2 separate regions of the Homo sapiens genome follow, and region 1 is linked to region 2. Evidence: fine-mapped expression QTL. A gene starts in region 2. The other region holds a variant in brackets. All regions are shown on one strand. Distances are from middle to middle. Region 1 overlaps RFC1 (replication factor C subunit 1). Region 2 holds the start of KLHL5 (kelch like family member 5).

Region 1 (4,403 bases), 280 kb before region 2:
CATGGCCACCCAGAATTTATGTCCTTCTTGCATGCAAAATACATTCATTCCATCATAACAGCCCCCAAAGTCTTAACTCATTTCAGCATCAAGTCTGAAGTCCACAGTCTCATGTCAATATCATCCAAATCAGATATGGGTGATACTTGAGGTATGAATCATCCTGAGGGAAAATTTTCTTTTGCTGTGAACCTGTGAAACCAGATAAGGAATGTGCTTCTAAAATATGATAGTAGAACAGACATATAGGATAGACATTACCATTCCAAAGAGGAGAAATCAGAAGGGAGGGAGGGGTGATGGATCCCAAACAAGTCCAAAACCTAGCAAGGCAAATTCAATCAGAACATAAGCCTTGAAAATAAACTCTTTGGCTTGATGCCCTGCCCTCTAGACCCACTGGGTTAGTGGCCCTACCCCCACAGTCACAGGCAGCTGTCCTGCTTCTGCAGCTCTGCTGGGCCATCCTGCCCACAAGGCTTTGGGTGGTGGCTGTCTCATCTGTTGAAACCAAGCTCCATCTTTTGAAGAGGGAGTTCTGATGGTTGATCTCTGAATTGCTTTTGGGGCCATTCTTCCCTTTTCTTGAAGAATAGCTGTGTTGTCCTGTCACTGGAATCTCAGAAGTCTGACAGCCTTCTTTCATTTTGTCCTTTCTCCATCCTCTTCAATTCAAACTGACAGTGTTTTTGCCTGTATAATCCCATAATCTCTTTATCAAGTGATACTCCAGCTACACCGTTGCTATTCTCTTTAGAACATGCTTTTTCTTTTCTTTTCTTTTCTTTTCTTTTCTTTTCTTTTCTTTTCTTTTCTTTTCTTTTTTGAAACAGAGTCTTGCTCTGTTGCCCAGACTGGAGTGCAGTGGCGCAATCTCGGCTCACTGCAACCTCTGCCTCCCAGGTTCAAGTGAATCTCCTGCCTCAGCCTCCTGAGTAGCTGGGACTATAGTCGCGTGCCACCATGTCCAGCTAATTTTTTGTATTTTTCCTAGAGATGGGGTTTTACCATATTGGCCAAGCTGGTCTCAAACTCCTGACCTGAAGTGATTGGCCTGTCTCCCACAATGCTGGGATTACAGGCGTGAGCCACCACACCTGGCCTAGAACTTGCTTTTTCATTTTCTGAAATACGGACAGGCTGAGAATTTTACAAATCTTCAAGTTCTGGTCCCTTTTGGCTGACCGGTTTCTTCATTAGTTCATCTCTTCCGTTTTGCATTTGACTACAAGCAGTCAGGAGGACTCAGGCCGCATCTTCAAGATTTTGCTTTGAAATCTCCTCAGCTAAATATCTGATTTCATCATTCACAGGTTCCATCTTTCACAAAGCACTAGGACACAACTTGGCCAAGTTCTGTGCCACTTTATAATAAGAATTGTCTTTCTTCCAATTTCCAATAATCTCTTTCTCATTTCCATGTAAAACCTTACCAGGTTGGCCTTTAACATTCATATTTATACCAACATTCTGTTCATGATGATATATGTATTCTCTGAGATGAAAGAGGCTTCTTCTCTAGCTCTTCTCTTCTCTTCATCAGCTCTCATTGTTATTACATTTAACGTTCATATTTCTACCAGCAGTTCCTTCATGGCAGTCTAGGCTTTTTCTACATGCTAGAAAATATCTAGCCTCTCCCCAGTTCCAAAGTCACTTCTGTATTTTAGGTTTTGTTTTGTTTTTGTTTGTTTGTTTGTTTTATAGTAGTATCCCATTTCTTGGTACCAAAATCTGTATTATACAGTCAGAGTTCTGTAGAGAAACAGAACCAATAGGATGTATGTGTGTATACATAGAGAGATTTATTACCAAGAATTGGTAGAGCTGATGTTTTAGTTGGAGTCCAACGGCAGGAAGAAAGTGTCCCAGAGATATCCCAGCTCTAAGGCAGTCGGGCAGGAGGAATTCCCTCTCATTCAGCAGAGGGTTGGCCTTTGTTCTTTCCAGGCTTTCAGCTGATTAGATGAGGCTTAATGCCATTAGGGAGGGCAGTCTGCTTTACTTAGTCAATTGATTTAAATATTAAGCTCATTCAAAAACACCCTTGTAGAAACACCTAATATGATGTTTGACCAAATATCTGGACATCTTGTGGTTCAGTCAGGTTCACATATGAAATTAGCCTCCACAGGTCACATTTCCTCTTTGCATGTTCTAGTTATTTTGGATTTATCTTGGACATTGTGAACGATACAGTGTAGGAACTTTGGATCCTGTTATTCCTTCAAAGAGTGTTCTTTTGGTTTATCAGGCATTGATCTTGGCTGTACTCAAGCTCCAAACTCTTGTCTCCCCTGTAATGGGCAGCAGCTGAAATCTTTATTCAATTCTTTTAACCTTAGCTAAGCTATAGGAGTTGTTCCACATATGTATAATTCAGGAGATAGCCAGAGATTTGGGTAAAGTTTACAGGCAGAATTTGGGATTTCTTTCTGTGGCTTTCTCCTTTACTTGATACCTTCTTCTCTTACTTTTGAGGTGTGGTTGATTCTGACTCTGTCCTTGATCCAGTGGTATATATAAATTATAATTGCTCATTTGTTCCATTTTCTTGCAAGCTAGTTGATTGTTCTTATGTTTTTGAAGTTTTATTATAATGGATAGAAATAGTTTCTATTTCTACCTTATAATTGAT[T/A]ACAATCAGTTTTTTCACTGCCTTCTTGATGCTTTCTGAGAAAATTTGAATATGTTAGAAATGTGATGTTTAACTACAAAATATATAATAATACCTTTTGCATTGGTTTTATTTAGTACTTTTTTTTTTTTTTTGAGACGGAATTTTGCTCTTGTTGCCCAGGCTGGCATGCAATGGCGCGATCTTGGCTTACTGCAACCTCTGCCCCCCAGGTTCAAGCGATTCTCCTGCCTCAGCCTCCCAAGTAGCTGGGATTACAGGCATGTACCACCACGCCTGGCTAATTTTGTATTTTTAGTAGAGACGGAGTTTCTTCATGTTGGTCAGGCTGGTCTTGAACTCCTGACTTCAGGTGATCTGCCCGCCTCGGCCTCCCAAAGTGTTGGGATTACAGGCGTGAGCCACTGAGCCTGGCTGGTTCTATTTAGTTTCCTAACAGGCATTGGCTAGTGGTAGGCCACTAGCTTAGCATTTATTCCTGTTTCTGTCGTTTCATTTTCAGGAAGCACTTGCCTTGTAATATCTGATATCCTTTTATTCTTTGTTGTATACATAGGTTAGTGTTGAAAATGGAGCTGAATAATAATATAGCGTTTTCTGTAATTATTTTTTTCCCATTGTGGTACAGTTACTGTCTGGCCTATTTTTAGCCAATAAGGGTATATTACTGACAGTTTAGTCTGGAGAATTCTTTGTTGTGGAGGACTGTCCTGTGCATTGTAGGATGTTTAGTAGCATCCCTGATCTACCTGTTACATGACAGTAAACCTCCCTACCCCCATTTGTGATAAGTAAAAATGTTTCTAGACATTGACAAATGCCTTCTGGGGGGCGGGGATGCAAAATTCCCCCTGGTTAAAACGACTGAGCCCAAATCTAACGAGAAAAAAGGATAGCCCCGTCTCTACTAAAAATACAAAAAATTAGCCAGGCATTGTGGCGGGTTTCTGTGGTCCCAGCTACTCAGAAGGCTGAGGCAGGAGAATGGCGTGAACCTGGGAGGCGGAGCTTGCAGTGAGCCGAGATCGTGCCACTGCGCTCCAGCCTGGATGACAGAGTGAGACTCCGTCTCAAAAAAAAAAAAGATAGTTATATAGGCTTCTTTATGTTCTAATTATATTGTGATGTTTATAGGTAAATAGCTCCCGTAAAGAGGATGACTTCAAACAAAAGCAACCAAGCAAGAAAAAGAGGATCATCTATGATTCAGGTAATAATTTCTTCTGAGGAGCTTTAAAATTTTAAAGTTATTGTATATCCCTTAGAACAGTGCTTTAAACTATGTTCTAAGGATGGGTGCGGTGGCTCATGCCTGTAATCGCAATCGCAGCACTTTGGGAGGCAAAGGCAGGCAGATGACTTGAGGTCAGGAGTTCGAGACCAGCCTGGCCAACATGGTGAAACCCCTTCTCTGTTAAAAATACAAAAATTAGCTGGGCGTGGTGGCACGCGCCTGCAATCCCAGCTACTCAGGAGGCTGAGATATGAGAATTGCTTGAATCCCAGAGGCAGAGGTTGCAGTGAGCCAAGATCGCCACTGCACTCCAATCTGGGTAGTGAGACTTTGTCTCAAGAAAAAACAAAAAAATTATAAATAAATAAATCAACTATGTTCTGAGATACGTAGCTCTCTGAGATGTTAATAAGTCCTGTGAGAAGAGGGCTGTATGCTCAAGTAAAATTTCAAACAATTTTATTATAGAACTTATCAGAACCAAAATATGTTTGTATTAAAGATTCCTTCAGAAAGTGATATAGTATGCAG
Region 2 (4,403 bases):
AACTAATTAAAAAAAATTTAAATTAAATACACTATTTACCTACATACAGATATTCCCCTCTCTCCATTACACAGAAGATGACAGATGACTAGAGTAAACATTTTTTATCCTTCCAAGTCCACATTCTTAAGGTTAGAAGAGGAAAAGGTGGTAAATATCCTCAAGTAAGAGACACTTAAATATATAAATTCATTTTGTCTCAATCCATATGACACCTACATCATTAATAACCAACTTACAAATTACAAGTGTTATCAAAAGCTGCACAGAAATTTTAAGAGAAAAATATAATAATCAAATTAGACAAATGATAAGCTATTTGTGCCTTTAAATATTTAGAAATATTTTCGAATGAAGATTAATCAGAAAGATGACTTTCATGCTCTAAGTTGTTATATAATCTTATTGTAGTTTAAACTGATGAATAAGAAAATCCATTTCAAAGATAAAGGCAGATTCCAAGATAAAGGTAGATAAAGTCACTATGAAATTACCTATTTTTTTCCTTATTTTCTTTCTTCTAACTGATTTCCCCTTCTTCCTGTCCCCTTTTCACCAGATAATCACATCTAGCCCCTCTACATTCCCTTAAACTCTCCTGGAGGAATGTCCTTCATTTCCCTAAATAGCACACATTTCAGTGAAAGTGAAGGTAACAGGAATTAGTAGCTGTCATCTTAGAGACATGTTACTTAGTATTCTCTATATTAGTCTGGAGAGCTGTAACACAGACAGGACAAAGAGAAATAACCATAAGAAAAATATTATTGACAACTACAATTGTGTCAAAAAATTGGTGACTATAATGTGCATCTCTTTGCAAAACCTTTCCTTTTCATTAAATTAAAAAATGACTCTATCATCTGTTATAAACTAAAATGTCACATAAAATTTCATACTATAGAAATATCTTCTATAGTTTTGATATGAATATAGAAGGTTAATGAATGAAGCAAACCACAGGCAATGATACATGAAATTGCTACTATATATTATTTTCAAAGCTGAGCCAGATCTATATATAGAACACAAGATATTTCAAAATGAATGCTATTTGTTGTCTTTGTAATTTTACAGACTATTAGAACATTAAAAAAACCCTAGCAGAAGTATCACATGTTCATACCAAGATATTATATATATGTATGCAGATGTACATATATAATCAGATTTTAAATAATAAATACTAAATTATTTAAAAACATTATAGAGCCATACCCCCACACCCCTTTTCTAACAGTAAGAAAATAATCAACCTGCATGAACTGGAATCAGATTCATTTTCTTCTTCACTAGTGCCATCATCCACTTCTGGTCTATCCAGCCAATGTGCACCGCCACAATCTTCTGCTGTAAACTCAAATGCAGGGACTTCAGAGGTGGATGCCATTGGCCAAGAAGGTGAATTCTGAAAATCCAGTTGGCTGGACCTTCGGTAACCAATTGAAGCCAAAGGCAATTGTAGGCTACATGGATCTAAAAACTTTCTCCCACCGTTTGCTCCAGTCTGTCCTCGGTTCCAAAATTCTCCCTGCTGGCTGTCAACTGTAGAATTAGGAGATGATGCTTGATGACCAAACCACCTCCATCTGATTTTCAAAATCTGTTTCACATCAAACTCTTTACGAGAACCAGACATCCTCAGAGAAACCAAGTGATCGTCTAGGCAACGGGCAAAAAGCACTGCACACAGATTTGTGCATCCAACCAAGACAAGAGAAGTATATGCCCTGCTGTACACAACAAAAATATGTAAAGGAAAATAAATCACATTCATATATATATCTACAATTACTTTTATGCCAATATATCAGATTTTAAAGAACAAAGGATAATGAATAAAGATGAAACACGGTGGAACATTCCGTTCAATCAGAGCAAACTCTCATCCACCTATCCTGAAGCAGCTAGACCACTTTCCCGGCTCTCCTTTCCCATACTGACCATTAGGTCTCACAAACACTGACAGCATTCATTAAAGTCCTTTCAAATGCAGAACACCACCCCCTTTTTCTTAAACCACAAATGACAGAGACAGAAAACACTATCCCCGTTGCAGTATCTCAGTCTCTGCTGCTTAGTATATTAACTCTTTCATTGCTGAAACAATAAATGTATTCTATAGCATTTCCCTTTGTACTTAAAAATAATCACTTTAAAACTAAAATGTTTCTATTTCTAAACTAAGTCCCTAAGTGAAATACCACAAAACAAGTTTTTAAAAAAGCATTTGTAAAATTAGATGAGTTATGGTGATTTTCCAGGTGTGCTCTTTGGATGGGGAATGAGGAGGAAAGCGGAGTACAAAGGTGGGGCTCCAGACTATTGCCTTCACCTCTATCTTCTCCCTTCAGAAAACAAATGGATCTAATTAATACAGTAAGATCCTGGGTAAGATTTCACTTGGATAAAGAATAATGAGGAGAATAAAAAGTTTGAAAACTACAAAGGATCAAAATGTAACAAATACTCTTTTTCAAATAAACTGAGGCCAGGATTTCTCTATAAGTAGAAATGGGCCACTGCCAGTTAGTGTAACATCCAAATTTCTATGACATTACTTAGGAAAAGGAAAAGTGCGGCTCAAAAAAGCTACCAGGGACTGGGATAGGACTATTGGGTGTACAAGTGCCCTAATGGTGCCCTCTGTTGTTAGCAAAACAAACAATGGTTTGAACATGGTTACAGTTAAGGCAAATTGATAAAGCAAATACAAATAAACTCAAAAATACTGAGTAGTTATTGTGAACAATGCAATCTACTAGGCATTGTCAGGGACACAGAGATATATATATCTTGGTTCCTAACCCCCAAAATAATTAAATCTAGCTATTGAACCAAATACAAAATATTTGATAAGGTAAAATAAGAAACATTAAAATGCTGCAATATTAAAGTGTGATCTATCAATGCAGAATTTGAGTTTTCAGGGTGCTCAGTATTTACTCCTTTATCAACTAATTCCATACAAAAGGCAATGCCTATCTAAGCTGACCAAAAAACAAAAACAAAAACTACTTTGGAGGCTTACAAAAATATTGTGAGGTGTCTATCTTAATACAAATTATTCAGAGAAACAAGAATGAGAAGCATAAAAAGCCAAGTATGATTTCATGCTAAATAATACGGGAAAAACCATACAAACTGTAAGAAAGAAAGGAGATATCAGGATGGCAATGGAGTGGTATGGGCCAGTTTCATTAGGGAGAAGGCTGCTAAGAATAGTAAAACATTGTTTAGGTAGAATGATAGATTTCTACAGAAAAAGATTCTAATAAAAGCATGAAGTGGGCATATCTACAAGGAAGAAGTGGGAAATAATCAGTTTGATCAGCCAGCCATACCAAATTAATTTTAAGGTGTAGTAAGAGATAAAGTTAGATGAATACGATGAGATAAAATGCCTTGAGCAAGCAGCAAAGACATTATTGAATGGACTGTTGAACAGGACAATGTTTTAGGAAATTAACTTGGCAGTACTGTGCAGGACGCATTAGAGAGTGAAATGACACTTTCCCCTCTCCTCTCACCTTTGTCAGACTCCTTCTGATCAACATCCTTCTAACTTCACTCTAGCTATCCAACTTTATTTCTAACCATTTTCCAACATAGACACACCACTTCATTGGTCAAGGCAGTCTACATTATGGTGTTCCCTCTTTTATAACACTGTTTGCCTCCCAGAGAAACTCTGGTTTAAAAAACACACTTCATCCTTCAAGATTTAGCTCAGGCACTATCATCTTTGTAAACACTTCAGTTACTCTAAGTAGCTGGTTCTCAACAAGGGAAGCATCAACCTGCTCCTAAAGGCTTCTGGAAAATAGGTGGTGGTGGTGGTGGTGGTGGTAGATTTTTAGTTGTTGGAATGACCAGAGTGCTATAGGCATTGAGTGTGCAGGGGCCAGAGACAGCAAACATCTGGCAATGAAAAATGATACCTTTATTTTGCCAATCCTCCTCCACTCATTCCCATGGTAATCATTGCTGACGCCAAGCTTGGTACATATAGCCTTTCACACCTCTCTCCATGTTTATAAATCATGGACAAACTTATATACACATATATAAGAGATTTGCTATTGTTATACAAGAGATCATATTGTATTCATCTTTTAGCATTTTGCTCTTCTCACCTAATTTTATATATACATGGAAATATAAATTAATAATCTTTTTAAGAGTTACATGATATTTCATTACTGTAAAAAAACCAATTTATTAAACTATCTCCCTGCTAATGGGCATTCAGGTTGATTTCAGGTTTTTGGGTTTTTGCCATTAAAATAATGTTGAAAGAAACATCCTTGTGAGGCTTTTATATCTACAGAATTTATTGCCAGGAGTGGACTTGCTGGGTTGAAGGTATGTGCATTTTATTTTGTTTTATTTTAAGACAGAAT

The links. PIP is the estimated chance that this variant, and not a neighbour inherited with it, causes the effect. A credible set is the group of variants that fine-mapping cannot tell apart.
Region 1: its variant is the best candidate, but not a certain one, in a credible set for the expression of KLHL5 in whole blood (TOPMed, PIP 0.72).

What each region holds. Positions count from the first base shown.
Region 1 is chr4:39,344,846-39,349,248 of GRCh38, reverse strand. It overlaps RFC1 (replication factor C subunit 1), which reads left to right. Exons shown (of 25, transcript NM_002913.5): 3 at 3,773-3,848. Among named protein-coding and RNA genes, the nearest start is that of RFC1, 19 kb to the left of the region's middle. The variant T/A (reference allele first, on the strand shown) is at 2,639.
Region 2 is chr4:39,059,889-39,064,291 of GRCh38, reverse strand. It overlaps KLHL5 (kelch like family member 5), which reads right to left and starts at 2,060. Exons shown (of 11, transcript NM_015990.5): 1 at 1,257-2,060. The coding sequence starts at 1,639.